Linked DNA regions of Homo sapiens. The protein of the gene in region 1 purifies or fractionates together with the protein of each later gene. This does not show direct contact. Each region holds a gene or a part of one and is shown on either strand. Other genes may lie near its edges. The genes, in order: POP4, RMP24, RPP40 and RPP30.

Region 1 (7,703 bases):
AGCCTTCCTTCTGTGGGAGAGCAATGGGGATGGGAAGATAGGGTACATATAGCCTTCGAGGGAGCTCACAGTATGATGGTGGGAACTCTGCTTCAGCTTTGCACCTGTAGATGCTAACTAAAAATTAATTCACTCTCGTCATTGTGACTATAATAGGACAATGATCTGATTCTCTTAAATACCTGAGTGGCTCATCTTTCATGGAGAAGCAAAATAAAGGTATACTGGTCTTTCAAAATCTTGCTTTCAAGGTAATGCTCTCATTATGAGCCACAAGAGGAACTTTTGCAAAACTGACAAAGCAGGCCGAGGCATTCAGATATAATCTGTAAATTTCACTTATGATATGTGATTGCACACCTTCTGCAGAAGTGCAGAGGGCACAGTGACAAGGTTGAATGATGCTGCCCACCACGTGGGCACAGCCTGGTGTCCCCAACACAGTGGGAAATGATAAAAGGTTAAGGAAAGCCTCATTTTACCAAACTTGACTTTGGCACAACAGAAAAGGAGGCTGGCACGTGGGAACAGGTAATGAGAACTACAGACTTTGATCCAGCCTTAGATGTCTGCCAGAAAAATGAGGAGTATGATGTGGGAAAGGACATCTCAATCAGTGCTGGGGGCTCAGAAGCTACTGAGCCATCTTTGCCATCACCTCTGTTGCTCCTGGACTCCCTGCCAAGAACTGACCTGGACATCGGAGTCATTCGCCTCTTTCTGAGACAATGCATGGTAGATCACACCTGGGGGATTAAAAAAAAGAAATGATCAATTCTTGTTGGGTATGGCTGTAAGACCCAAGACTTTTCTAACTATGAAAATAACTACGCCACTAGGCGCAGTGGCTCATACCTGTAGTCCTAGCACTTTGGGAGGCCAAGGCGGGCGGATCCTGACCCAAGGTCAGGAGTTCAAGACCGGCCTGGCCAACATGGTGAAACCCCGTCTCTACTAAAAATACAAAAATTAGCCGGGGATGGTGGCTTGCACTTGTATTCCCAGCTACATGGGAGATTGAGGCAGGAGAATCGCTGGAACCTGGGAGGCAGAGGCTGCAATGCGCCAAGATCGTGCCATTGCACTCCAGCCTGGGTGACAGAGTGAGACTCTGTCTCAAAAAAAAAAAAAAAAAAAAAAGAAAAGAAAAGAAAAGAAAATAACTACACTTCTACACTTATAGCAGAACAACTGCTTATTCAGAGATAGGAGAAGATGAGGTTGGTATTAAGAGCAAAGCTTTCTTGGATGCCTCTTATCCCACCCTCTGGCCACATCTATGCTAGAAGTTCCAAGCACATGGTTTAAAAAGAATGCTTCTCAAAATTTAACGTGTGTAAAAATCTCTGGGATCTTATTAAAATGCAGATTATTGGTCTCCTACCCTAGATCCTGAGTGTTTAACATATTCCCAGATACTACTGCAGGTCAGTGAATCACATTTTGAGTTGCATTGGTTTAAAATACCCCAAGTTAGAAGCTTGAGCACTTGCTAACAAGGTAACTCATTAAAAGTTATATGATATAGCTGTCTAGGATGTAGATGGTTAGAAATAGGTTTTGTTAACTGTAAGATGTTTAAAAAGATTCTTCACATTTTAATATGAAATTATAATGTGTCACATAATCGATGGTGTCCTGAACTGATAAAATACAAGTTTTTCCTTTAAACTCAAAATATACATTGGTCAATAAAGTTTCAACCTCTAAAATAAATTCCACACTTCTGTTTCTTAATTTTTTGAAAGAAGAAAACCATGGCACTGGGGACAGAGTACAGGTGTGAATGGAATAAGAATGGGACTACTAAGGCCTGGTTTATGAGCTAAATAGCTAGAAAATGTAATTTACACTATACTCTGTAAATTTAATTCCAGCTTTCTTGTACTTCCCTGAGAATGTTTGATGCAAGGTGGTTACAAGTTTTTTTTTTTTGTTGTTTGTTTGTTTGTTTTGATACTGGGTTTTGCTCTGTTGCCCTGGCTGGAGTGCAGTGGCACAATCATAGCTCACTGCAACTTCGACCTCCTGGTTTCAAGTGATCCTCCCACCTCAGTCTCCTGAGTAGCTGAGACTACAGGTGTGTGCCACCACACCTGGCTAATTCTTTTTTTTTTTTTCCAGTTTTTGTAGAGACAGGGTCTCGCTATGTTGTTGCCCAAGTTGGTCTTCAACTCTTGGCCTCAAGTGATCCCCCTGCCTCAGCCTCCCAAAGTGCTGGGACCACAGGCGTGTCCCACCACACCCAGCCAGGTATGTTTGTTTGATCAAGCAAACCAATGTGGTTGCAAGTTTTATATATAGCATCTAGTTCTCCCTCAAATGGAAGATGGGGATTATAAACTGTAGAGAGCAACTTGCGGGGCCTGATAACTTTGCTTCATCTGTTACAGGTGCTTAGTAACAGACTTGGAAGTCTTTCTGCAACAATACACATCTAACAATTACTGAACATCCATTACTTGCCAGAAACCTCATTACAAGGTACACATATTTTTTCTCATTACACTTATGTGCATGAGCAAACTGAAGCTCAGACATGCCGAGACAATCTACTTGATCATATAGGTAGAAAGTGGCAGAGATGAAAAATAAAAATTCTGATTGAAGGCCCAGTCTTAACGGTGTCTACACGCCCCTCCTTGGCACATGTCTTCTACCCCTAAGGACCAAAGCTTTGGGTTAGTGATATCATTCCCCAGCAGCTCTCGGCGCTTTGCATCAGGTTAAGAGTGTGAAACCAGCTCGCAGAAAGGAGCAGGATCTTGACCGCGGTCACCCCGGGAGATAGTGGCCAAGTTGAGCCAAGGCCTGGAACCCTCCTCTAGCATCGCACACCACTGAGCAGCCTCCGGGAGAACCTGCCTCCAGCCCTGACATCCCTCCCTAGCTCAGAGGTCGAGCCAGGCTAACCCGTGCTCCAGCCCTCAGTTTTTCTTAGGTAGGGTGGGCCCATTCCTGTAGCGGTTCTGTTAGGACTCCGCAGCAACAGGTAGCCCGGACCCATTTCACCCACCAGTACCAAGACCCCGACCCTTAACGTCCCCAACCCTCTCCAACTTCGCGGCCCCGCTTACTCTTCATTCTCGGACCGCTTCCGGCGCTCTCTGATGACGCACTGGCAGCTGCTGTCGCAGACTCTCGGAGCTCGGAGATGGCGCTATGCGTGACATCACCGGCGCTCGCCCACCTCGGGGGCGCATGCGCCTGGAAAGGGATTCGGCTACTGAGAACGTCGTAGGCGGTGTTGCTGAGCAGTGGGGAGGAGTGGGCTCGCTTCCTGGGGTCTTTTCCGCCTGCATCTTTTGGGGGACAGGCAGTAGGGTTGGGGTAAAGGCATGTGGAATGCTTGCTAAGGCCTGGAGTGGAGCGAGGCGAGGCGACTTGGAGAGGACTCGAAGGAGGTTGGGGATCTGGGAGGGCGGAAATGGGACGGGGACGGTGGGGTGAGGTCTTTGTCGTCCCTAATCAGCGCCCTTACGGATGAGCCGAGGCAGCTTCCGCTGTGAGCACGGGCACCGAAGCTGGGACAGCAGGCTTAGGTTCTAGTTCCGTGTCTGCTGCTAACTAGCTGTTTAACCTCGCTTAGGGCACTTCCCATCTGTAAGCCTCACTTGCAGTCTGTGCTGTGAGTGGGGTCGGCCTCACAGGTAGTGATGCGCCGCCTGGGTCCCTTTGATAGTTTCAGAAAGCTTTCTTGAGACTCAGAATATTTATTAGTTTTTATCAATAAAAAAATCATAGCAATAAGATCAAAGGTGGCTCACACCGTGGGAGGCGCAGGCGGGAGGATCTCTTGAGCCCAGGAGTTCGAGACCAGCCTGGGCAACATCGGGAGACCCCATCTCTACAAAACATTTAAAAAAAATTATCCAGGCGTGGTGGTGCGTGCTTGTAGTCCCAACTACTCGGGTATCTGAGGTGGGAGGATCAGTTGAGCCCAAGGAGTTTAGGGCTGCAGTGAACCTGGATTGCGCTACTGCACTCCAGCCTGGGTGACAGAGTGAGACCCTGTCTCCAAAATAAATAAATAAATTCCATATAAATAAATAAATGAATAAACAAACTCCATTGCTCAGTGGAAAGGTGCAGGAAGGCCTGGTGCAGACTTCTCAGCAGTGACCCAGTGTTGGGCAGAACTGTGGAGCCCCAATTTCTGCTGAGCACTGGGCCTGTGCTGGGTGGGAGAGAAAAGAAATACGGTCCCTTTATGCTAAGTCAGTGGTTCTCAACTTTGAGTACAGTATACATTTCTTTACAGGGGATTCTGGGAGTATGTCCAAAGGTTTTAGTTTGAGAAACATTGGCTTAAACAATTTCTTTGGTGGTGACCTTGTACCATTTTGATTTTAAACATTAGACTGCAGGCACTGAAATTGGTTCATCCCAGTGACCCCGCGTGCATTGACTTTATAAAATTTATGTATTAGTTTTTGCATATGTAGTACACTTATGCATTTATTTTATACGTATAAAATTTGGAAAGACCACATTTAAACCAAAACATGCTGCCTTTGCAGATGCCTGAAAATTGTAATTTATGGGACTGATAGAGAACTTTTATTATTTTTAAAATTAACCAATAAGAATTGTATGTATTTATGGTATACAATATGGTTTGAAATGTGTATACATTGTGTAATGGCTAAATGAGCTATGAGCGATGCTAATACACTCATTTTGTGATGAGAACACTTCAGACCTACTCTCAGTGAAATTCAGGTTATTAACTGAAATTCACTGTTATTAACTATAGTCACCATGTTGTACAATAGAGCCCTTCACAAATGTGAACTTTAAAATCAAATGAGACAGCAGAAGATGTTAGCCAGTTTCAGAGCTGTGTACTCAAGGGGGGCCCTTTTAGGCAAGACCTCTGTGATTATGGAGATTAATGAGAAGACCTGTGTCTTTGAAAGTTTTTTTCTAGGGTTGTTAGGACTCTTAACTCCCAGTTGACTCCTTCTGGGATCCCTGGATAACTGCCAGTCTCCCCTCGAATTCCCTGATGGTGGTGGGGTGGGTCGTCCTTGAGTTGCAATTACAACATAGTTCCTTCATCATTAAAATATTTTTTTTTTTGAGACGGAGTCTTGCTGTGTTGTCCAGGCTGGAGTGCAATGGTGTGATCTCGGCTCACTGCAACCTCTGCCTCCTAGGTTGAAGTGATTCTCCTGCCTCAGCCTCCTGAGTAGCTGAGATTACAGGCACACACCACCACGCCCAGCTAATTTTTGTATTTTTAGTAGAGACAGGGTTTTACCATGTTGGTCAGGTTGGTCTCGAACTCCTGATCTCATGATCCACCCGCCTCGGCCTCCCAAAGTGCTGAGATTACAGGGGTGAGCCACTGCGCCCAGCCTAAAATATTTTTTAAAAAGCAAACAAACAAAAAAAATAAAAAGCAAACAAACCACTTGATTATTCTCAGAAAATGTTTCTGTATGCAGAGAGATACCTGTGAGGATGTTTGTGATTTTTGTTTATAATAGCAAAAACTTAAAAACAATGCTATATTTGATCATAGTGGATCAAGCAAATTAACTATGTGCTAATTAGGTAATTAGGTATGCTAATTAATGCATTATTAAATGCATTAATTTACCTGATTAGTTAGCACACACTTAATTTGCTTGATCCACAGACCAAATACAGGATCACAATCACAGGGTAAGCTTTCATTTCAAATTTCTTGGTATCATACCTGGAGATTCGTTTTTATCCAGTGGGTCTCAATAATCTGTTTTTATAAGGTGGGTCCCAGTAATCTGTTTTTATAAACTGTTCCTAGGTATGGCACATTTGTTACAGTAGGTAGGTAGTCAGGTATGAGCAGGGCAGGAGAAGGCTCCCCGCTACACACACCAGGGGTGTTGGGCCACCATCAGGTGATGGTCAGGTGGTTGTTAACTGTTTCTCTAAAGTAATTGGCCACAGCTGGCGCTAGGGAACAGGCAGCCGCCTAACAGATAGAAAACACCTGAAACTGATCAGCAGCTTCCTGTAAGATCTCAGGAGTGGGGAGAAGTAATGTAAGATCCTGGAAGTAGATCCTGGAAGTAGGCCAACGTGTAAAACCCCAAGTCAAGGGGTCAGGCTGCGCTCTTGGTTTCTCAAGTTGCCTGCTTGTCCTTCCAACTTGTATAATACTTTCCTTTTCTTTCCTTTCCTTACTGTTCAAAAGCTTTGCTTTTTTTTTTTTTTTTTTCCGAGACGGAGTCTTGCTCTATCTCCTAGGCTGGAGTGCAGTGGCACGATCTTGGCTCACTGCAACCTCCACCTCCCAGGTTCAAGCGATTCTCCTGCCTCAGCCTCCCAAGTAGCTGGGATTAGAGACACACACCACCATACCCAGCTAATTTTTGTATTTTTAGTAGAGATGGGGTTTCACCATGTTGGTCAGGCTGGTCTCGAATTCCTGACCTTGTGATCCACCCGCCTCGGCCTCCCAAAGTGCTGGGATTACAGGTGTGAGCCATCATGCCCGGCCTAAAGCTTTTTAATAAACTTCCACTCCTGCTCTGAAACTTGCCTTGGTCTCTTTCTGCTTTTTGCCCCTCAGTCAAATTCTTTCTTTTGACAAGGCAAAGATTGAAGTTGCTGCGAACGCGTACGGATTCGTCTCCAGTTACTTGGGGTAACTCGGTTCTCTGCCACTGCTAACACATTTCTATAACATGATGGATTACCATGCAGCCATTAAACAAATTACATACAATTTTTAAAAAGGTTACAAACTAATAAAGCCAAATATATACACAATAGTTACATGAATATACTAAAAGTTTGTATAACCGGGTAAGTGAAGTTATGGGAGATTTTTCCTTTTGTTTCTCTTTTCTAAATTGCATTTGGTGAAAAGACTTTAATTTTTTTCTTTTTTATAGCTATAAATGATAAACTTTCAAACATGGATACACATGTGTTTTCCCAGTAGTGGCTTTGTGAAAGTTCCACGAGAAGTCAATGTTTGATGGAATCATTGCAGGTGACTCCCCTCCGACCTCCAGCAATTTATTATGAAAAACTTCAAATATACAGAATAATGGAAACATTTAAACAGTGAACACCCATATGCTTTTTGATTCTACAATTCACACTTTGTTGTATTTGTACAGGTTCCTTTTGATTGTTGCTCTGAGACATTCAGGCTGCTATTCTGAGTATTCAAGAAAAATCTCATATGTAAGCTCAAAAAGATTAAGCCTCAACTATTAAGTAAGTGGGTATCCACGAAAATTAGGACTTCTGTAAATAAACACAACTAAATTTACAGAAACCATTTATCTAATAGCCTCTGACAATATAGTGGAGAAGTATTTTTTTGTGTATCCCCTCTCCTCCACTTTCGGATTAAAGAAAAACATTATTTCTAGTTTTTTTTTTTTTTTTTTTTTTTTTTTTTTTTTTTGAGATGGAGTCTTACTCTGTTGCCGAGGCTGGAGTGCAGTGGTGCGATCTTGGCTCATTGCAGCCTCTGCCTCCCAGGTTCAAGGGATTCTTCTGCTTCAGCCTCCTGAGTAGCTGGGGTTACAGGTGCTTGCCACCACGCCCGGCTATAATTTTGCTATTAGTAGAGACAGGGTTTCACTATGTTGGCCAGGCTGGTCTTGAACTCCTGACCTCAAGTGATCCACCCGCCTCGGCCTCCCAAAGTGCTGGGATTACAGTCCTGAGCCACCGTACCTGGCCTCTAGTAGGTT
Region 2 (7,869 bases), on another chromosome or scaffold:
AGACATAAGCTGTCATAATGTCCAGTGCCCGGCACAGTGATAGACAATAAGCAGGCACTTGAACAGTTGATAAATGTTAACATAAAATATGCAGGGATATAAAGTGTATTTGCTACTGGCCTCCATATAGTAAACCGTACGTAATCTGATTTTGGTTGTTTTATTCCATCTTATATCCCCAATATTAAATGTTGCTTGGCATATGATAGACCCTCAATAAAATGTTGAAAGAACAAAAGATGCATTCACCTTTGTTGGGCATACCTGTAAATCCACTCTGACATGGAGTGGGAGGACAGCTGAAGAAGTGACATGATACCTACATACATAACATAGTACTATCTGAAGCAAAGGAGCATTAACTGAAAAAATAATGTAGTGGTAACTGCAATTTAGGTGGAGCCATAACGGTCAGTTCAAGAAATCCGCACATTTGTGAAAAATAATGCTCAACAATGGGATCTCAAAACAATTGAGAGCTCACCATGTTTGGTTTAGGTAATCATGAAAAATAAAAGTAAGCTGTCCTTATAATGAAACACTAATCATTAGAGAAGTGTTTATGTATATATTTTGATAATCCAAATATACTACTATAAATCTCTGAGTTATACTGAGGCTGATTCTTAAACTGATTTTAAGTGAAAGAAAAGAAAATTCTAGTTTACTCATACATACTGGAACTGAAATCTTACCAATACACTTTTGGAGTCTTTGAACTTTTTCACCATTTTTGCTTCTTTAAAACTGAGTGTATAGTTTCTCGCTTCTCGATTAAGAAGTTTCTGTATTTTGGGTGTCAACCTGGCTTTGGGTTTGAGACGCACTCGAGAGTTATCCAGAACCAACAGCTGGAAACAGTATGGACACGTTTCTTCAAAAGTGCTCTTATCATCTAAAATTATACAAATGAAACTCACAATTCAGCAAATCAGAATATTTTGTTACCTCAAACTGTCAACATTTATAAAAAGTATATTGAAATTTAATATAAGCAGATACACATTAAGTAAACTCAAAATATGAAAATTTACAAAAAGATAAATTGGCAGTAATTTACCTTGCAAAATACTACAATTCCATCCATTCACTCCTTTCAGCAACAGATAGGCAAATCTCCAACCTATGCTAGCAAATCCTGTAGGCTTTAAAATATATCCTAAATCTAGCCACTTCTCATTACTTGCTACTAAGTTTTAAAAGGCTGTTATGTTTCACCAATTTTACCAATGCATTTACCACAAAATAACAAATTGCACTGCGATTTTGTTTCTTTTTTTAAATAATTAGCACAATGAATAGTATCTACTGTTGAGCACTGTGCTAAGTGCCAGGGATGCAACAGCACTTATAAAGCTAAAGACCACACTTAAACTTAGCTCTGCCAAATGTGAAACTCATTCATATTCACTAAGTGACAATTAAGAATGCCAGGCACTGTTCTAAGTGCTGGAGACACAGCAGTGAACAAAGGACAATTCACCGAGGCATACAATAAATATAACAACGTCAAATGTTAAGTGCTGGGAATAAAAAAGTAAGATAGGAGGGGGGAATAGAAGTATTGATGGAGTTACTGTAATTTTAAATAGGTGGCTAGGGAAAGCTTCATTGAGTGATATTATAGAGACCAGAGGGAAATGGAGGATTCACATGAAAGCAGATATGTGAGGCAAGAATCCCAGGCAGAGTGAAGAGTACCTGCAAAGGCCCTGAAACAGAAAAGCAAGGAGACCTAGTGTGACTGGAGTTGCGTGAAGGAAAGAGTACGTCAGAGAGGTATGCAGGTCTATGACACAGGGCCTTACAATCCTTTTAAAGGACTTTCACTTTTATTAATCCAGGAGAGAGCTGGTGATGGCCTGGAGCAGGGTAGTAGCAATGGATGTGGTGAGGAGTGGAGTGCAATGGCGCCATCTCCGCTCACTGCAACCTCCACCTCCCGGGTTCAAGAGATTCTCATGCCTCACCCTCTCGAGTAGCTGGGATTACAGGCGTGCACCACCATGCCAGGTAATTTTTTTGTATTTTTAGTAGAGACAGCGTTTCGCCATGTTGGCCAGGTTGGTCTCGAACTCCTGGCCTCAAATGATCCGCCCGCCTCTGCATCTCAAAGTGCTGGGATTACAGGGGTGAGCCACCGCTCCTGGCTGATTTTGGCTACATTTTAAAGCCAACAGGATTTGCTCGCATACTGGCCTGGGGGAGGAGAGAGAGTTAGGGAGTCAAGAATAGCTCCAAGGTTTTTGGGCTCAATAACTGTAAGGGAAGAATGGAATTATTTACTGAAATGAGAAAAACTGGAGGATCTTGTTGGGGGTTAAAGCTCAGGTTTTGGACATATTAGCTAAGTTTGAATTACTAGACATTGAAAAGAATTTGTCAAGAAGACATTCGGATATATGAGTCTAGAATTCAGAGGAGAGGTCTGCGCTGAGTATATACATTTGTAAGTCCTCAGTATATGGTATTTAAAAGCCATGAGATTGGATGAAAAACTGTCACCAAGGAAGCGAGTGTGCCTAGAAAAGAGGTCCAAGGGCTGAGTACTGGGCCACGACAATACTTAAAGCTTGGGGAGATTAGGAGGAACCAGCAAAGCAAATCGAGAAGTAATAAATGAAGAGGTGAACTACGTAATGACCTAGAAGCCAAGGGAGGAAACTATTTCAAGACTGATCAATGTGTCAAATGCCGCTAACAAAGCAAGACAAGGCACATTAAAGAATTTGGATTTTTCACGAAACCGAGACACATGCGGGCTTTGTTGTTGTTGTTTTTATGGAGGGAAGTGAGTCCATCGGCCTTATTTGAGCGTTGTGCGGAACAGAGGAAAGCGGGGCGACAAGAGCCCAAAGCACAAGAGACAGGCGTTCTTCTTACCGTGCGACGAAGTGTAGGCCCAGCTGTAAAAGAGAAAGAGACTTGTGAGGAGCAAAGGAACACCTACCCGCTCGCCTCCCGCTTCCCCTCCAGTCCTCTTACAGGAGGTAGCGGGCTTGGCCCGGGCAGCTGTCGTGCAGTCCCCGCGCTGCAGCCTCAAGGTAGTGCTTCTGTCTCATCGCCGCCGCCGCTGCCGCTGGCTCGCCGCGGGAACCAGGTGAGAAAATAGGGCGCCGGAAGTCGGCTTCCCAGCGTCCCCGTCGTTGGTGTCCGGACTCAAGCTGCTTCCGGAAACAGGCACCGTAGGCAGACAGGTTCCGGTTTCCTTCGCGTCCAGTCTGGCTTGGAGGCGTGCCCAGCCGGGAGGCGGCCCCACCCGCCCGCCGCGTCCCCGCCCCCTCAGTTCCACCCCTTGGCCTGCCGGGTCCTCTCAGGCACCCAGCGGAGTTTCGAGTCAGACTTGAGCTCGGGCGTAGCGGCTAGACCGGGCTGTGGCGATAGAGTCCAAAGGTGAGGCTCCCACCCGCCTCTCCATCTTCCTCCCGCCTCGCCTCCTCTCTGACAGCCCTTTTGTGATTGCCCTGCCGCAGCTTCGCCCTCCACATTCGCCGGGCGCGGTACTGACTGGTGCGCCGGCGGGCGGAAGCGCTGCCAGCAACGAGGCGGCCGGGAGGAGCGTCCCCAGTCCAGCCTGCCCTCCGCCTGCGTAAACGCTAGCGTTTCTCTTTTTGTAATTAAAGTGAAATTCACATAACGTAATATTGACCATTTTAAGGTGAACAATTCAGTGGCGTTTAGTAAATTTACAATGTTGTGCAAGCACCATTCTGCTATTTCCAAAATATTTCGCCGAAGGACAGCCAACTCCATGAAGCACTTACGGCCAATCCTCCTCTCCCTCCCAGGCCTTGGCAACCACCAGTCCGCTTTCTGTCTCTATGGATTTACCTATTCTGGGCATTTCATGTAAATGGAATCATACACACGACCTTTTGTGTCTGGCTTCCTTCACCTAGCATAATGTATCAGGTTCATCCACCTTGCAGCACGTATCAGTACTTCATTCGTTGTTATGGCTGAATAATATTCCATTGTATGGCGGTATCACAATGGTTTATCCATTCATCAGTTGAACGTTTGAATTGTTTCTACTTTTTGGCTGTTATGAATGAATGCCGCTGTGAACATGTGTGTACATGCATTTGTTTGAGTGCCTTTTTTCTGTTCTTCGGGGTATAATACCTAAGAGTAGATCTGCTGGGTTATGTAGTAATTCTGTGCTTAATGAGGGTTCCAGTTTCTCCGTATCCTCACCAACATTTGCTTTTCTTTTTCTTTTTTTTTTAAATCTAGCCTTCCTAGTGAGTATGATGTAGCATCTCATTGTGGTTTTGATTAACATTTCCCTGACTACTGATGCTTTTGAGCAGCTTTTCATGTGCTTGTTGGCAATTTATGTATCTTTGGCTGTTTAAGTTCTTTGCTCATTTTTTATTGGAGTTGTCTTTTTGTTGATAAGTTGTAAGGTTCTTTTAATGTGTATGTTCTGGATAGTGGACCCTTATTTAGCCTGCTTTATTTATTTATCTGAGATGGGATCTCACTCTGTTGCTCAGGCTGGAGTGCAGTCGTGTGATCACAGTTCACTGCATTCTTGAATTCCTGGGCTGGGTTAAAGGGTTCTCTTGCCTCAGCCTCCCTAGTAGCTGGGAACCAGGCACACTACCATGCGTAGGTATTGTTGTTGTTGTTGTTGTTGTTGTTATTATTATTATTATTTTGGTAGAGATGGGCGTCTCACTATATTGCCCAGGCTGGTCTTGAACTCCTGGGCTCAAGTGATCCTCCCACCTCAGCCTCCCATAGTGTTAGGATCACAGGTATGAGACACTATGCCCAGCCCATTTTTAATTTTAAAAGGGAGCTAAATTGGCTAGGCGCAGTGGCTCACGCCTGTAATTCCAGCACTTGGGGAGGGCAAAGCGGGTGGATTGCCTGATCTCAGGAGTCGGCGACCAGCCTGGGCAACACGGTGAAACCCTGTCTCTACTAAAATACAAAAATTTAGCCAGGTGTGGCGGCATGCGCCTGTAGTTCCAGCTACTTGGGAGGCTGAGGCACAGGAATCGCTTGAACCCAGGAGGCGGAGGTTGCAGTGAACCGAGATCACAGCCACTGCACTCCAGCCTGGGCGACAGAGCGAGACTCCGTCTAAAAAAAAAAAAAAAAAAAAAAAAGGCGGGAGGCGGGGGGCTAAATTATATAAAGATTTGTAAAGAGAAAGTATATATTTACATCTCTATAGGCATTTTAACTTTTTCCGAAGAAAAGTTATTTTCCCTGCTCTTCCCACCTTTCCATCCCACTTCTCTGAGGCGATCAACATGAATAATTGGGTGTCTCCTCTACCTATGTCCTTATACACTTAAGTACGTGTATAAATATGCTACCCCCCACCACTTACCACGACCACAACAAAAAGAAACAAACCAAACACACACACAAAACCAAAACCAAAAGTAAAATGTTAGTTCCTTACTGTATAACTTGTCTTTTTTCCTTAACAGCAGGCCACAGACATCTTTTCAAGTTAGTACATGCTTTTAAATAGCTGAACATATTACAAAATGTAATGAAACATAATTTAATTTATTTAATAAATAACCATATTTTATTTTCCTATTGATGTTCATTTGGAAAAAAATTCGTGCTTTGCTAGTTAATACAGTACTGGTGGTTTTATTTCTTTTGTCTGAATTCCTAAAAGATAAATTACTGGGTAGAATAATATGCACATTTTTTATATGCCAGATCATCCAGAAAAGGTTGTAGCAATTCATATTCCCAGCATCAATGACTAAGAAGGCTGGGTCAAATTAGATAGGTGAAAGGCAAATCCTCTTTTCATTTATCCCTTGATGGTTTGCATTTTCTCTTATGAAGAGAAATCTCTTGTTGGATTATCAGTTTTTAGAAGATCTTTTATTTTGGTGAAATTCACTTTCTGCTTGTCATATGTGATGCAATATTTTCTTCTTCCTTATCTTTGGCATAATTTATAACTTTTTAACATTACAAAATTTTGTATGTGATCAAACAAGTCACTCTTTTCATTATTGGATCTGGGTTTTCTGTGTGGTCTAAAAAGTCCTGCTTTGTCAAAGTTAGGCAACTAACTATTCAATTAGATTTTTTTGTTTGTTTGTTTGAGACAGAGTCTCACTCTGTTGCCAGGCTGGAGTGCAGTGGTGCGATCTTGGTTCCCTGCAACCTCCGACTCCCTGGTTCAAGCGATTCTCCTGCCTCAGCCTCCCGAGTAGCTGGGATAACAGGCATGCACCACCATGCCTAGCTAATTTTTGTATTTTTAGTAGAGACAGGGTTTCATCATGTTGGCTGGGATGGTCTCTATCTCCTGACCACATGATCCACCTGCCTTGGCCTCCCAAAGTGCTGGGATTATAGGTGTGAGCCACTGCACCTGGCTAATCAGATGTTTTTCTCATACTTTTCTAGTATGATTTCTTCCATGCACATATTTAATTGATATGAAATGTATTTTCACTTAAATGTAAGAGCATCTGACATTTTTTCAAAATGGATAGTAAGTTATACAAAAGCCCCATGCTAGGTAAACTAGTCTTTTTCCATTTGAATTGAAATAAAAATAATATGCAATGAGCACTGTATATGTGCCAGGCACTTTTCTAAGCATCTTAACGTGTATTAATTTATTTAATCCTCACAACACCACCATGGCATAGGAGAAATGCCACTACACCATATAGAAGTTCTGTTTTGTTTTGTTTTTTACATAGTTGTATCTGTTTCTAGGTCACTAATAAAGCAGAAAGAGGGAAAATGTGAAAATGAAATCCAATATGTGTGCATGTGCTGAGACCCCAGTGGCGCTAGAGGAATTAAAGACACACGCACAGAAATATAGAGGTGTGAAGTGGGAAATCAGGGGTCTCACAGCCTTCAGAGCTGAGAGCCCTGAACAGAGATTTACCCACATATTTATTAACAGCAAACCAGTCATTAGCATTGTTTCTATAGATATTAAATTAACTAAAAGTCCCCTATGGGAAAGGAAGGGATGGGCTGAATTAATTGCAGCAGGAACATGCCCTTAAGACACAGATCGCTCATGCTTTTGTTTGTGTCTTAAGAATTCCTTTAAGCGGTTTTCCGCCCTGGGCGGGCCAGGTGTTGCTTGCCCTCATTCCTGTAAACCCACAACCTTCCAGCTTGGGCGTTGGGGCCATTATGGACATGTTACAGTGCTGCTTCTTCCTTCCCACGGCTTGCAGCTGGTCTGTCCTCAGGTCCTGCTGGCTCTTCATCAGAAGTAAATCATGACTGCCCGCTTCTCTGCACCACCACAGCCACCCTCTTCTCTTGCCTGCACCCCTGCTATGGCCCTCTGCATTCGTTTCCTGCTTCCTCTTTTATCTCTCCCAGTCCAATTGAAACTGCCTTTGCAAAAATTAACAGTGAAATGATTAGCGTGAAAGAGATCTGACCTAACCAACTCCATCTTGCTTCTAACCTCTAAGCTGTCCTTGTTCATTCCCAGGAATTGGCTGAACTAATTTTGGGAGGAACTTAGTTTATAGTTTAACTTTGTAACAGCCCTTTATAGTTTGACTTTGAAATAAAGATGATATCAGCTCTTTCCCAAAACAAAACCCGTTCTTGCCTGGGGACCAGGCTGCCTTTGTAGGACTAACAAATTAGCTACAAGATTAGAAATTATGGTTTAGGAGCCATGCAGCTGGAGGCTGCAAGATTCTGATCCTCCTCAAATTGCTCCTGGGGATAATAACATCACTGTTGTAAAATCTAAGATCAGTGCTTCGTAATCTGGCTCAACCAGTTCTGTGATCCTCCACTGGAACAGAAGACAGCAAGAAAAACCCACTTTAACCCCCTATGATTTTTTTTTTTTTAAGCTCTGTTGTCCAGGCTAGAGTGCAGTGGCGT
Region 3 (7,728 bases), on another chromosome or scaffold:
AACAGCCTATTTGTGCAAGTTTACTATCATCAAGCAAAAAACTGACTCAGAACGGAACGTGACCTTTGGGGATGCGCGGAGAGGGGTCCAAAGTAGAATTCTAGATAAACATACACCTCTCAGAGACAGAGTTCCAGGTTAAGATTCAAAAGCTACCCAACCTCTCCAAGCCTCAGTTTCCTCACTGTTAAATGAGGATCATAGGCTTGCTTCATAAAGTTGTTGCAAGGGTTAAATTTGGTAAGACATTTAACAGTGCCTGCTACAGCCATTGTCCACGTAATTCACAGAGTGGTGTCAGGCCTTGAAATAGATGAAAGGAATAACGGTGATGAGACCAGACAAGATGCCCAGCTCATAAGTCGCCCCAGCAGTGTCAGAATGAGAGGAGCTACTGGTAACTAGAGTTCTTCATATCTTCACTGGAGAGGACACACATGGGGGCTACCACAAGATAAGCATGTGGCCACTGTACAGGTGAGTTATGTAGTGTGGGTGGAATCCCTAAAGGCCCTCTGAAATAGTTTCAAACAAATGGCTCCCAGGAATCAACTGAAACAAACCAGTCCAACCCAGCAGATATGGGTGGAAATGGGGTGAGTAGAGGAGGGGTTATGGCTACAAAATCTAAGCAGAAGACACTGGACCCCAACAAGCACTTTGCTCTGTGAACAGTAGCTGTGGCTGTATCGGGAGACCAACCCTCTGAGACAGCTGCTGTGGGACTGCTGACAGCATAGTGTCTTTGCAGCCACATCTTCAACAGCAGTGCATCTGAACACAGACTGCAAGTCTCTCCTCTCCATTAATCCTCATTTTAAGGGGACGGATACTGTCATGTTACAACATCCCCATCCAACACTTGTGGCCAATTGCAATCAGAAACCACCACCTAAAGAGGGTACAAGAAAGAACAGGATGAGAATGCGGGGGAGAACGCGTGTGCACCTGACCACACAGACTATACCACAGGCCCTGTTTGAAACAAAACAACAGCCCTAGCATCGTGATGTGGTCTCCCTACCCTTCCTCATCCAGCCTTGTTCACAGCCATTTCAGGTTTTTCTTACCTTTCTTTATAAAGGTACTGATGAATTCAGGTGTAATTAATTCATGAAGAGGTAAATTCTTCACAAAGTAATAGGGTCCAGTGTTCATGACCAGGTTTTTCAGTTCTTCCGATAGTATCCCACATTCAGGAATGAGAAATGAAACCTATTGGAATGTGTAATACAAACAAGGTCTTACTTCCATGAAGATGAACACCCAGGTTTTTAGGAATGAAACAAAATCATGAAAGTTGTTATTTCTCCACGAGTTTCACTGGAACATAAAAACACGGGCAACAAAACTCTTATGTTAACTTACCTATCTCAGGCAAAGAGAAATCTGACTACTTAAGTTTTTCATTTCTGCATTCAAACGTACAGTACAGGAAGGGGATTGAACAGAATACTTTTAATGGAAAACTCGTGCTTGCATTTAATCTTTTGCAAATTAGCAATGCTGTATATTTTATGTCCTGTTCCTTTCACTATTTTATTTTCAAGGAAATATAGTATAATTGAATATCCCTTGATTTGTTTACCCTGGTGTTATCCTGGAATGAAACAAACTATCTGTCGGGGCATAAGGAATTAATTTATGGACATCCAATTACTAAGAATCTATGTGCAAGCAATGGTGCTCCTGTATGTTTTCATTTTCGAGACAGAAAAATGCAACAGGCGAGTTAAAGTATACATCCCTGACTGCTGTGATGAGCTTGACATCCAAAATAGGTGTTAAAAACAGGGCAGGCTTCAAATGTTGCCACATTGTAAAAGTCATCACTGTCCCAAGGCTCAAACACCAGCCTGTTCTGACTGATCAGGTCACCACTTAACATCTCTGAAACACTGCTCAGTCAAACCTGAGTTATTAAGCTGATCCATTTAAAGTGTAAAATGTTTAATCCCCCATGATAAGGTTAGTTTCTTGAAGTCTCTCAGATATCAAATTAGTTCCAACAACCAATTTAGAAAATCAGTCGCTTCGGCCGGGCGCGGTGGCTCACGCCTGTAATCCCAGCACTTTGGGAGGCCGAGACGGGCGGATCACGAGGTCAGGAGATCGAGACCATCCTGGCTAACACGGTGAAACCTCGTCTCTACTAAAAATACAAAAATTAGCCGGGCGTGGTGGCGCGCGCCTGTAGACCCAGCTACACGGGAGGCTGAGGCAGGAGAATGGCGTGAACCCGGGAGGCGGAGCCTGCAGTGAGCCGAGATCGCGCCACTGCACTCCAGCCTGGGCGACAGAGCGAAACTCCGTCTAAAAAAAAAAAAAAAAAAAAAAGGAAAATCAGTCGCTTCCTGGGCCGAGCCTAGGCAGGATGCTCTGGTGAGATCCACAGGTACGCAGGTGGGAGAGGGATTCAAGCTGGGGAGGAGGCAGTGGTGGGGAGGAGGCGCGAGACCCGCCCTGATTTGGGGAAAAAGCGAGGTGCACGTGGCTGCCCCACAGCCTAACTCCCTGGTCCCGGCCCTGAACCTCGAATCCCTCCCTGGACTCACTCCCAGTTCGGCGGGTTGACACGAGTGAGCAGCCAGAACGCCCCTGACAACAGCTCCCTCCAGACTGGGTACCGCCCCCACGCCCGGCGCATCCTGGGAGTTGTAGTCCTGTAGCCCTGCAAGCCACTGGCTTAGAGCAGTTAAGAGACTACAACTCCCAGCAAGCCGGGCGAGGGCCCCGCCCCTCCGCGTACCGCCGGCGGCCCCGCCCCGCGAAGCCTAGCACTCTCCCCAAACCTCTCTCGCACGCGGGGACTGAGCACGGCCCGAAAAGCCGAGGACAGCCGGACTCACCCTGTAGTTATAGTAGTGCGTCTGCACAAGATGCCGGTGGCGCGACTTGTGGTTGCCGAAGTTGGATTTCTCGCAAACCAGTAAGTGCCGCGGCGCCTCCCGAAGCCGGCGCAGCGTGGCCATGCTCTCCTGGGTTCCTGGTCCTCCCGGCCTCCGCTGGCGGGGCACGCCCCGCCCCTTCCTCCCGCCCCGCCCCTTCCCTCCGGCCGCATACCCGCTGCTGTGCGCCCCTGGCGGCGGTGGAGTGGGGATGGCGGCGCTGGATTTCTGAGCAGTTCTTAGACTTCTTAGGAGCCCACGCAGCCGCTCTTTGGTGGATGTCTGAAGCTGTAAATTCACTGTCCCAGTGGCTGGGAACCTGGCTCTTGCCTTTTCAACGCCACTTTTCCTCCGTCCCCGCCATCCCTTGGAATTGCCCTAAACCCTCTCTGTGGGCCCCGCCTCGGAGCGCCCCTTGGACCCCAGCCTGGCGCCGGCGCATACCTCGGTCAGGCCCCTCAGAGGGACCGCTTCCTGCCACCGTTATAAAAGGAAAACATCGCATGGAAAGGCCCAGTTCCTTTAGTATATGGTCAAGAAATGTAGCCGCACAGTTAAGTAACCCCCTAAGCTGCTTTGGGGGCCACACCCAGCTGCTTTCTGACTTCTCACACTGTTTGGTTCACAGGACTCTGTTACCCATTGGGGACCTCTTGGCCATTATTAACACAGGCCAACAGGACTAAAAGTTTGTATCAGTCCTTCCCAAAACATTAGGGAAGGTTGTGCGGGAAGGTAAAGCACAATTTTTGCCTTACAATAGGACTCCTTTGAAACTACTATTGAGTTCCCTTTTAAATAGCCCTTCAGAACCGCTTTTAATAATGTGTTGTTTCTGGGGGTTAATAGTGATAATTCTCCTAAGTCATTTTTCCATTTCGTTTTTCTGTCACGGGCTTGGAGCGGTTAAGAGACTGCGGCTCCCAGCATGCGGTACGTTACTGATCAGGGCAAAATCAAGTATGTTACTACATGCTTCTCAAACTAGAGAGGCACAGCCCCAATTCTGCACTGGCAGGATACAAAACAGCAGAATATTGGTGATACATCTTCCTGGAACATCAGTTTTTCTATGAGATGTGGAAGAAATGGAATTAAGTAGTTTACAAGGTAAATAATTAAGAATTTAAAACTAAGCCAGTCACAGTGGGTCATGCCTGTAATCCCAGCACTTTGGGAGGCTGAGGTGGGAGGATCACTTGAGCTTAGGAGTTCAAGACCAGCCTGGGCAATATAGTGAGACCCCATCTCCAAAAATAAAAATAAAACTAAGACAAGGCTGGAAAGTCATCTGCCATTATAAACATCAGTAATCTGGCCGAGCACAGTGGCTCACGCCTGTAGTCCCAGCACTTTGGGAGGCTGAGGTGGGAGGATCACTTGAACTCAGAAGTTCACGACCACCCTGGACAATATAGTAAGACCCCATCTCAAAAAAAAAAATTAAAACTAAGACAAGGCCGGAAAGTCATCTGCCACTAAAAACATCGGTAATCTGGCTGAGTGCTGTGGCTCACGCCTGTAGTCCCAGCAATTTGGGAGGCCGAGGCGAGCAGATCGCCTGAGGTCAGGAGTTCAAGACCACCCTGGCCAACATGGTGAAACGCTTTCTACTAAAAATACAAAAATTAACAGGGTGTGGTGGCGCATGCCTGTAATCCCAGCTACTCAAGAGGCTGAGGCAGAAGAATCACTCGAACCTGGGAGGCAGAGGTTGCAGTGAGTCAAGATCTCGCCACTGCACTTCTAGGCTGGGCGACAGAGTGAGACTCTGTCTCAAAAAAAAAAAAAAAGTCAAAATGTAATCTATGACTGAAATGTCACATTTTCTTTCCAAGGAAAAACCTAATGAGAACCTGTTTCCCATTATTTTAAACAGCAGAATTATAAGGCGTGGCAAGTTAATTAAAAAAAACCCTACTAATTTCCTAGATCACAATATGGCAGCTAGATGTTTTATAAATAACAGCTACTAATAACATGTTAAGATGTAAAAGGCTTAAAGCATTGCTTCTTGGTCACCTCATATTTAATGTAATTGTCACCAGACAGTTGCTTTGTGTGTGGTAGCAGTGGCCCAAGACTGAAACATCACGGATGTACCTCTCCTTTGTCGACATTCCAAAACTCCACAAAGTGACTGGTGTGATCCTGATGGTCTACCAATTGTATTTGGAAGCACCGTGAAGCTTTTCCAGCAAACCATTTAGTTTAAAATGTTGCATATTTTGAAGATGCAAAATAAATTCTATCTATGTAAATATCAGCTGAAAAATGTATTGAGAGATATAAACTGCCCTCTTCTCAAGAGAGACCCCACAGAGTCTTGCAGCTTTAAGTCCTCCTCTCTGGCTGCTGATAACCCCTAGATGTGGCGCCTCTTCCCTGAGCGGAGTATCCAGATGACTCTAGTACAAGGACTCACCCCTGACTTCTTCCCTTCTCACCCGCCATGCAATCCCACAGTAAGTCTTGTGGCCCTGCCTGCAGCACGCATCCTGATTGCAGCCTCTTCTTGCTCTCTGCGTTTCTACAGCCAGTTTCAGCCACCTTCGTCACTTACTGGCCTGCTGCCCAAGACTGCCTCCAAACCTTCTCCTTGCTGCCTCTCTTGCCCTCCCACAGTCCATTCTCCACTCAGCATCCAGAGTGATCTCTTAAAAACATGAAAAACATAATATACCCCCACAGCCCCATTTAGACCCTACCACTGGCTTCTCACTGTGATGGAATAAAAGCTTACACATTGGCCTGAGCCTGCCTCTTCAGCCTCATCTCCTTCCCTTGCTTATTCACACTCTGTCTGTCAGATTTTCTGGTCTCTAGAGCTGAAAGCAGTCTTAACTGACAAACAGATATTAGATCATAGAATCTAGAGCACAGGGTATGGAAGGAAAAGTGCAAGATGGAAAAGCCAGAAATGGTTAAAAAAAAAAAAAAGCACATGAAACAAAACATATCTATATGTATACCCAAAATAGTAACATAATTTTGAAAAATCTGAGCTAATAGACTTGCAAAGAAATAGAAATATCTTTGATCATATTCTGAAAACAAAAAAATATAGACTTAGTAAATATAAAAGGACAAAAATTTTACACATCCCATTTCCGGGCCATAATGCAATAAAGTTAGAAAGAACAGAAACAGAATTGGCCGGGTGCTGTGGCTCATGCCTGTAATCCCAGCACTTTGGGAAGCCAAAGCGGGTGGATCACGAGGTCAAGAGATCGAGACCATCCTGGCCAACATGGTGAAACCCTGTCTCTACTAAAAATACAAAAACTAGCTGGGTGTGGTGGCATGCGCCTGTAGTCCCAGCTACTTGGGAGGCTGAGGCAGGAGAATCACTTGAACCCGGGAGGTGGAGGTTACAGTGAGCCAAGATCTTGCCACTGCACTCCAGCCTGGCAACAGAGTGAGACTCTGTCTCAAAAAAACAAACAAAAACAACAACAAAAAAAAAAAACAGAGAAAGAAACAATTTAAAGATGCTCAACTCTTTGACAATGTTAAAATATTCTTTTAAATAAATTAATGCCTGGGTCAGGGTGCAAATCCAAAACACAATGACAGTGTCCATAAACTTCTGTGCTTGTAAATGTATCATAACCATATACAGGCCGTATTGGTGAAAGGAGACAGCTGTCTGACTCAGAAACACAGGGAGTGATCAGGTTATGTTCATTAGGATCCTAGCACTGCCCTGGAGTTGTTTAACATCATCTCTTTACAGTTAGGAGCAGACTGCAGGGAAATGTATCTATTGCAGACAACTGTGCTAAATCAGAGGCCGCCCTCCTGCTGAACCTGAACTTGACCTCACAGTTCCTGTCAGCACAGGGTTCTAGGCAGCTGCTACAAATCAACTGGTGTTGGCTTACAGATTGAAACTGCCCTCAGACAGCAGAGTGGAAACTGGCACCAATGGCTGCAATGGAGAAAATTAATGGCCTGTGGGCCACACACGGTGGCTCATGCCTGTAGTCCCAGCACTTTGGGAGGCCAAAGCGGGTGGATCACTTGAGGTCAGGAGTTCGAGACCAGTCTGGCCAACATGGTGAAACTCTGTCTCTACGAAAAATACAAAAGTTAACCGGGTGTGGTGGCGCATGCCTGTAATCCCAGCTACTCAGGAGGCTGAGGCAGGAGAATTGCTTGAACCCGGGAGGCGGCAGTTGCACTGAGCCGAGATGGTGCCACTGCATTCCAGCCTGGGCAACAGAGTGAGGCTCCATCTCAAAAATAATAATAAAATAATAATAATAATAATAATGGCCCCTGCTATGGTCTGAATGTTTGTGTTCCCCCAAAGCTCATGTATTGAAATGCAATCACCAATGTGATGGTATGAGGAGGTAGGGCATTTGGGAGGTTAGAAATGGGATTCATGCACTTATAAAGGAAGCCTCAGAGAGCTGCCTTTCCCCTCCTTCTATATGAGGACAGAGGGAGAAGATGCCATCTAATGAACAAGAAAGCGGCCCCTCCCCAGACACTGAATCTGCCAGTGCCTTGATCTTGGACTTCCCAGCCTCCACAACTGTGAGAAAGAAAAGTCTGTTGTTTATAAGTTACCCATTTTATGATGTTCCCTTATAGCAGCACAAATGGACTAAGACAGCCCCCAAGAAGAATGTATGACCCACCTAAGAACTAGACAGTGTCATTTTCTCCTGGGCTGCTCTCTCCGTGACTGGAGTGGAGATCAGTGAAGGACACAAACATTAACCATGGCAGCTCCATAGGCCATATCGCTGTACGGAGGTGCACAAATGAAGTCATGCCTTAAAAGCAGAACATGGCCAGGCATGGTGGCTCATGCCTGTAATCCTAACAC
Region 4 (8,097 bases), on another chromosome or scaffold:
TAAATATGCATCAGCTCGACTGTTTCTATATAAAATAGAAAAGTAGTAGTGCACAAAGGGGTGCATTTAAGAAATATTCTAATCTGTAGCTTCCAAATTACCAATACAAACAGAATTACAAATACTTATTTATGAACTTATTAACTTTAGAAATATTATTTTACCTGTTTCTTTTCCTTAAAGTCAACGATATGATTGATAGCAACAACTGAATAGCCAACTGAAAAAGAAAAATTGAACACTTTTGTTAAATATAACAACCTCTCCTTCCTGTAACACAGGTCCATCCTGAGTCTAGATGTCAAGAGTAGGAGGACATTTGAGGAGTGGTTATGAATGTGAACTCTAGTGTCAGTCTGCCTGATTTAAAGTCTATGCACTACCACTTACAAGTTACTTAACATGAAGTTTCAGGTTCCTCATCTGTCAAATGGTGAAAATAACAACACTTTCTTCATACACTGTCATGAAATTTAAATGAAATAATACACATGAGGTGTTTGAGAACAGTGCCTGGCACACAGGTCTTTGTTTAACCATTATGAATTATTATTAAAATGATACTAAAGACTCTTAACTTTGTGCTTCTCCTTTTCAAATGTCATTCTCTTTCATGACCCTATATTCATTTTTATCCCATCAAGTTCCTACTTTATCACTGTCACTTTTATTCCCGTTCATTTCTTTTGCTTTTTATCCTTCTACTTCCTTCAGAGACTCCTTTCCTAAGGAGAAATGGAGTGATAACTCCCTCACACCACTGCCCGCTTCCCATTTTAAGCTGCACACCATCGACAGACTGGGAGCTCCTTGAGGTCAAGGGCTTGCTTTATTATCCTCATCAGTTAGCACTGTTCTGGACATTTGGGCTACCAAAAAAAAATCTAAATCATGACTCCCATCTTTAATTTTTAAAAATACCAATGGGGATGAAAGGATATTAACATTAAAATACATATCAATGCCAAACTCTCAACAGTTTGTCCAACTTCCTTCTTCCCTTCCTCCCTCAAATATTTACTGAGCATCCATTACTTGACAAGCCCTAAACTGGTGTTGAGCATACAGGATAAATAATATAATCCTTCTCCACAAGAAATTTACAGCCTAGTCTGTTGGAGAACGAAGGCAAATAAGGCAATTAAGCAAGTCATTGTATATAAATACATGTTTTTTATAAGTAAGGATTCTATGGAAGTACATAGCACAGTGAAACCTGGTGTAGGGGTCACAAAAGGCTCCCTGAAGAAAGTTACCCTTAAAAACAAAAAAAAAATCACAAGTATGCCTGTACCTTGGGCTTCACCTTGCACCCAGTTAGTCAAATCAACCAGCCACACCTCCTCCCTATTCTTCTTTACCACACTCCCAAATCTGCTCTAAACTTCCTTGTTATACCCATTTAGGATATCCTTTTGGCTACTAAACAATGTCCCTACCGTTCTACAGAAATGTCAACTAGGATCTGTTTCTCCACAAAACTTTTTCCTAGACTACTCCTCATCTGGCAGCTTAGGAGTACTTACTTCCCCAATCAGGCTTTAGGGTATTTTAATTTACACAGTATATTTCTGAAGCTTATTATTGGTTTCTTGTATCACATCAGAAACTGAGAACCAGGGCTCTGTCTTTCCTATTCTTTGCAAATGTCCACTATTTAGTTCCAGACTCATCAAATAGCAGAGCAGTCCTTTGTCTTTGACTTGTAAGTTGAGGCAACTTTATATGCCATGAATTCCATTTAATTTACAAACAAATAACCACTAACAATGTACATATATTACCACACCTCTTCCAAGTGTATTTTAAACTGGGGGAAATTCTCTAAAGAAATCATTATTAACTTTTCTTTTTTGTATTAATTTTTTTAATGTGTTCAGTTTATTCCACAAGCATTAACTGAGTAACTGCCATGTACTGGTGCCTGCAGAGTGAACGTGTTAAGCACAGTAAATAAAAGGATAAGACATGGCAATTCTCTTAGGAAGCTCATGATTTATTCAAAAATGGGATGGCGTCAGGAAAAGCCTCATTGAGGAGGTAATAATTGCGACAAACTACACCTAGGAAAACTTATTTTACAGGATCAAAGAACATTAGCGCCAAATGGCCCAGATCATCATGTCTACTTTCGTCTTCGTGCTGATGAGCAAAGTACCACAGAGATAACGTTCATTTAGTGGCAGCAGTGGAAAGGGACAGTCATTTCGCCACGGATACTTCATAAAGAGAACAATAAAAAAGTGGTGTGATTCACTTTGCCAAGAAGTGGTTGTCATTTCTAGCACCACCTCTGAACAGTATCAGTAATCAGAACTCACAATGAGCTGAAAACTGTCTCTGAGGAGCAGATGTTACTACACGAACCTCTTGATTCTTTTTAATCTCTCTATTCCAACACTTTACAGTCTACGGAATACAGAACCCATGACTAACTCCAATAGTTAAAACAGGTTCTCGTCTCTCAAGGCTTTCGCTTCCCTTCGATTTGGGCCATGCTATCCTCCTCCTCCACCTCCACTCCGCTGTGTATGTCCTCTGCCCCCACCTACCCTCTCTCTGTCTAGATAGTATTGTTCCAACACTCCCACGTCCTCCTCCTTCTCCGAGCCTCCACGGCGCTTCCTGTCCGTGCCCCAAATTCCAGTATTTGTTTAGACACTGTCGTGAGAATCAGGAAGGGCTGATAGTAACTTAGAAGCTTAGAAGATTGTACCCTTGGAGTCCAGCTCCGGCTTCTGTCACCTATCAGCTGTAGGCCCCTATGCAAATCCCTCGCCCTCGTTAGGCCTCAGTTCCCTCATTGCAGGAAAGTAGCTGAACCAGATAACAACCCCCAGAACCTTCGAGTTTCCCGCGCTAGGAATCAGACCAACACCTCGGCGGGCATCAGCCTCCAGGGACATCCCAGAGACTCTGGGAGACCTGACCGAGACCCATCAGGAAATAGTTACTCCGGAGTGTGGCCCGATGGTCTGGGTGGCATGAGGTTGGCCAGGCGCGAAGCCGGGGCAACTCACGGTGAGCGGCTGTCTCCACAAGTCCGCGCAGAGCCTTCAGGTCAGAACCCGCTCGCAGGTCCAAATCTGCAAACACCGCCATGCTGAAGTCCCATGACCGTCCGCGCGCGCCAGTCTGCGCAGCCGCTGAGCCCGCCCCTCAGGCATGCTGGGAGCTGTAGTTAACCTGCGCAGTCCGTCTCTACCTCCAGTTGACTAGGGATTCGGAGAAACTTACTTGCTTTGCTTTCATCTACCACCAGAATTTGTGTGTTGAAATCAACAGCTTCATTTCAATCTCTCTTTGTCTTCTTCTGAACGACAATGTTTGGTTCCCCCTGGAGGGGTTCCAATTCCCAACTATTCAATACTCCTATAAAATAGTGTAGAAATGAATTCATTCAAAATGCACGCACACGGTATCTACTTAGTGCTGCTCATGAATCAGAGAATTCTGCTAATGGGTGAAAACGCTATTTAAAGAGTCTTAAAGAACACGTTTTCCTTTCCTTTCCCTAAAGTCCATTCCGTTGTTTACAATGGACTTACCGGGAAGAAGGCGTTTGTGTGTGACGGACTCTAGGACTTCAAAAGAGAACTACCCCAAGACGAGGGTCTTTTTACCCAATCAGAACTGTTGATGTCAAAGCCCGCTATTCTCTGTGGCAGTCAACATCTTCAACCACAAGATGGCGGGACTCGCTCTAGGACGAGCGGTTAGAGCCAACATTGATTTAGCCAAAGACATGTTTGAAAAGGGAGGTGCAAAATTGAGATGTTTTACACTTTTCCAGCTGAGAAATGTACAAGGTGACGCATATCCCACATATCTGATGTTTCCACTTTTTTCCGACTTAGTGTAAATGATCTATTGAGGATAATAATCAATTATACTACAAAAGTGTGACTATAGTTTACATCAGTGCTCTCAAACTACCTGTGATGAAGGATCAGTTTCTCCCTCCTTTTCCTCTACCCCCAAACTCTTCGCGAACCAGGATGTGGTCCTTTATGCATTACCAGTAAGCAGCCTGGCCTCATGGGAATCACAAATTTGACAACACTCGAACTGCCCTATACCTGGCTGAATAGAATCTGCTGATCAGGAGCTTGGATTATCAGGACAATGCCAAAGTACTGTAAACTTTCTAAACATCTTCACTTTTTGTTTGTTTGTTTGTTTTATTAACGTGCGCACAGCAACAACAATCACAGAATTAGAGGCTCGGTCATTTGACCTAGGGAGTATCCTAGTTGGTGGCCTGCTGAGTTTTCGTTTCGTTTTGTTTTGTTTTTAGAGAGAGTATCTCGTTATTGACCAGGATGGACTCTAACGCAAGCAATCCTCTCTCCTAGCTGTGATTACAGGAGCCCACCCACATGCTTCACCCATCAATTTCTCTTATTTACTGATCACAAACAGTTCACAGATAGTCTCTCGTCTATGGACCACACCTTAACTAGTACTCCTTTATGCGATTTTCTTGTCGGTCTCAGAAGGGAGGAAGGATCTGTTCCATGCAGTAGCATGCAATTCTCTTCTTGGTTAACTTTTGTAAAGAAGAGATATTTTGCCTTTTCCAGTACTTGATATTTCCTAAGTGGGAGTAGAAGAGAATATTACTTCTGCAAATAGAATAAGGTCATATGAAGCAAACGCTTTGTTTTTCATGAGAATATCTAGTGTTAATTTTGCAGGGTCACACAGGCATCATCACCTATGACCATAACAATCTAGATTGGTCAGAAATATGACCAATGTGTGGTGAAGGTGAATAAGGTGATAGTTCAATTATTTTTTCATTTTTAGTTGACACATTGTAATTATACATATTTATAGGGTACAATTTCATGTTCTGATACATGTATATGTTGTATAATGAACAAATCAAGGTAATTAGCATATTCATCACCTCATGCATTTTTGGTGATAACATTAAAAAAAACTCTTCTAGCTGTTTCGTGATATATAAACAATACCTTACTGTTAACCATAGTCACCTTGTGTGCAATACAACATCAGAACTTATTCCTCCTATCTAACTTTGTACCTGTTGACCAACCTCTCCCCATCCTCCTCCCTCAATCCCTCCCTCAATACCAATCAGTTGGCTATAGGTGCATGCATTTATTTTTGGTCTCTCTATTCTGTTACATTATTGGTCTATGTGTCTGTTTTTCTGCCAGTACCATGCTGTTTTGGGTACTATAGCTTTGTAGCATATTTTTAAGTCAGGCTTTGTGATATCTCCAGCTTTGCTCTTTTTGCTCAGGACTGCTCTTGCTGTTTGAGGACTTTCGTGGTTCCACACAAACTTCAGGATTTTAAAAAATATTTCTGTGAGGAATGTCATTGGTATTTTCATAGGGATTGCATGGAATCTGTAGATCGTTCTGGATAGTATGTCTACTTCAACAATATTATTTCAGTTCATGAACATGGGATATCTTTTCACTTATTTGTGTCATCTTTATTTCCTTAATTTTTTTTATTGTACAGATCTTTCACCTTCTTGGTTAAGTTTATTCCTAGGTATCTTTTTTTGTAGCTATTGTAAATGGAATTGTTTTCTTGATCTTTTTAGATAGTTCCCTATTAGCATACAGAATGCTACTGTTTTTTTGTATGTCAATTTTGTATCCTGCAACTTCACTGAATTTACTTGCTAGTTTTAAATGGTGGAGTTTTTTTGGGGGAGCCTTTAGGGTTTTCCATGTATAAGATCATGTTGTCTGCAAACAGTAATGATTTGAGTTCCTCCTTTCCAATTTGGATGTCTTTTATTTCTTTTTCTTGCCTAATTGCTGTGGCTAGGAGACTGTTTAATTATCTGATGCTAGTATGAGACTAAAGTGGGCTTCTTTGAAAGTCACAGAACTTTTGCTGTGGACTGTACCATATAAACTTCTTTTCTTCTCTGCACCCTAAGCCTGGGTGAAGAGGAAGAGAAGAGGTAAGAAAGAATAGGAATAGATAACAATCAGTATTTAGCACTATACTGAGGGCCAGCGAATTTGCTAAGTACTTATGTATGTATCTTATTTTCAAAGCAGCTGTGTGTTAAATGCTGTTTTTTATTTTTGTTTTATTACTGTTTTCAGATCTAGACTTGCAGAAGTACTGTTTTTTACTTTTTGTTATTTTGTTTTTAAAATCAATATCCATTTTTTATATCTGAGAAAACTAAGGCATTATTAGTGGTAGAACTACATGTGGATGGAGGCAATTTGTTTCAGTTCTTGCCTAGTGTACTGCTTCCTGAGCAAAGCAAGCAGAGACTAGAGTTGTTTGGGAGGGAGGAGGAGAAGAAGAGAAAAGAAGAGAAGGGAGACCAGAGAGGAGAGAAGGAGAGTAGAGGAAAGGAGAAGTAGGAAGGGAGAAGGAAGGAAAGGAAAGAAGTGGAAGAGGGGAGAGAGAAGTGGAGAGAAGAAAAAGACAAGACAGAATAGGGGAGATGAACAGGGAAGAGGGGTCAGAAGTTGGCCTGAAGGGATGGCTGTGGCAACAAGTATCTGCACCTTGAAGAAGACCATAGAAATTTCTGACTGGAAGATAATAGTACTGTTTAAGACTGGTAGCAGTGGCTCACACCTGTAATCCCAGCACTTTGGGAGGCTGAGGCAGGAGAATCACTTGAAGCCAATTCACGACTAGCGTGGGCAACAAAGTGAGACCCTGTCTCTACAAAAAATAAATTAGCCAGAAGTGGTGGCACACACCTGTAGTCTGAATTACTGGGGAGGCTGAGGTGGGAGGATCCCTTGAGCCCAGGAGTTCCATGTTATTATACAATGAGCTATGGATTGCACCACTGCACCCTGGTGTGGGTGACAGAATGAGACCTGTCTCTTAAAAATCCTAGCTACTTGGGAGGCTGAGGCAGTAGAATTTCTTGAACCTGGGAGGCAGAGGTTACAGTGAGCAGAGATTGCACCATTACACTCCAGCCTGGGCAACAAGAGTGAAACTCCGTCTCAAAAAAAAAAAAAAAGTACTGTATAATTATGATAAGCATTTTACATCAGTTATCTGATTTGATCCTTACAATAGCCAATGAGAGAGATATTGTTATTCCCATTATATCAAGGAGAAGTCCTGGGCTCAGATAGGATGGCTCTTGAGTCATTTCTTCTTCTGCGGGAAGCCTAGAAAAAGAGGATGGTTTTTCACATCCAACGCAATCATTGAGCCCTTCTCATCCTCCCAGAAGAGCTCTCTTTTCTGGGCTGTGTGTGGGCTTGGGTGTGTGCTTGATTAGTCTTTGGCCTTATCCTAAGTTTATTCCATTCACCCCTCCTGAGTGAACTGAAAAATGCTCCACCCAACCCCTGTCCTCTTGCAGCTTAAGGCCGAGGGGGAGCCAGGCAAGAAAACCATATTATAAAATGATTTAGCCAGATGTATTGGGAGCACAAAGCAGAGATTTATCTCCCAGATTGAGAGGGAAGTTTGGGAGATCTGAAGGGAAAAAATGGCAGTTTCCTTGAGGGAGTAATGCTTGAATTAAATTTTGACACATGGAAGTGGAAGAGGAACATACATGAGACAGAGATCTAGGGTGTTGAGGGTATATCCAGAGCTGGCACAAAGTAGGTGGTACTCAGCCAAAAGTAACTGATTGAATAAATGAACTCATGGCCTCTTGTTTGACTTTGTTCCCATATCAACAGAATTGTAGCACTGTTGGATGTATTATTTAATCACCTGGCCAGAAATTCACTGAACTGTGCACATGGTGCACTAGTGTGATACACCAGCAACTGAAACAGAACCATCCTCTGTGTCCCACATGGTGGGACACTTATAGGAGCTCTTGGGGAGACTAAAAGAAGATGCCTTAACTCCAGGCTGATATTACAGTTGCCCTATTCATCACATATCTGGAAGTTTGTGCAGTGAACCATCTGCCCAGCCTTTCCCAGAAGCCCTCATAAAGCAGACCAGAGGGGTTAATTGCTAAACCTAGAACTCTAGTGGCACTCCATAGGACATCACCAATCCAGGGAGCTGCTCACAGCTCACAGTGATTCCTTCCTCATCTTCTTACCTTCCCCCAGAAACTCTTGTTACTGACCTGATATCATAAAAATTTGTCCA

Evidence for each region.
Region 2: the proteins of POP4 (region 1) and RMP24 purify together in Homo sapiens (affinity purification with mass spectrometry; 4 studies listed by BioGRID and IntAct, with this or other methods). This does not show direct contact.
Region 3: the proteins of POP4 (region 1) and RPP40 purify together in Homo sapiens (affinity purification with mass spectrometry; 5 studies listed by BioGRID and IntAct, with this or other methods). This does not show direct contact.
Region 4: the proteins of POP4 (region 1) and RPP30 purify together in Homo sapiens (affinity purification with mass spectrometry; 6 studies listed by BioGRID and IntAct, with this or other methods). This does not show direct contact.

Annotation. Positions count from the first base shown.
Region 1 is NC_000019.10:29,601,700-29,609,402, reverse strand, and holds the start of POP4 (ribonuclease P protein subunit p29), read right to left. Parts: upstream 3,121-7,703; 5' UTR 3,085-3,120; coding exon 3,078-3,084; intron 747-3,077; coding exon 694-746; intron 1-693. UniProt on the Homo sapiens protein: Component of ribonuclease P, a ribonucleoprotein complex that generates mature tRNA molecules by cleaving their 5'-ends.
Region 2 is NC_000018.10:35,967,922-35,975,790, reverse strand, and holds the start of RMP24 (UPF0711 protein C18orf21), read right to left. Parts: upstream 3,113-7,869; 5' UTR 3,063-3,112; coding exon 2,986-3,062; exon of another isoform or gene 2,925-2,985; coding exon of another isoform or gene 2,907-2,924; coding exon 2,884-2,906; intron 896-2,883; coding exon 696-895; intron 1-695.
Region 3 is NC_000006.12:5,001,031-5,008,758, forward strand, and holds the start of RPP40 (ribonuclease P protein subunit p40), read right to left. Parts: upstream 3,008-7,728; 5' UTR 2,973-3,007; coding exon 2,850-2,972; exon of another isoform or gene 2,786-2,849; intron 1,216-2,785; coding exon 1,071-1,215; intron 1-1,070. UniProt on the Homo sapiens protein: Component of ribonuclease P, a ribonucleoprotein complex that generates mature tRNA molecules by cleaving their 5'-ends. Also a component of the MRP ribonuclease complex, which cleaves pre-rRNA sequences.
Region 4 is NC_000010.11:90,866,992-90,875,088, reverse strand, and holds the start of RPP30 (ribonuclease P protein subunit p30), read right to left. Parts: upstream 3,116-8,097; 5' UTR 3,103-3,115; coding exon 3,021-3,102; intron 221-3,020; coding exon 165-220; intron 1-164. UniProt on the Homo sapiens protein: Component of ribonuclease P, a ribonucleoprotein complex that generates mature tRNA molecules by cleaving their 5'-ends. Also a component of the MRP ribonuclease complex, which cleaves pre-rRNA sequences.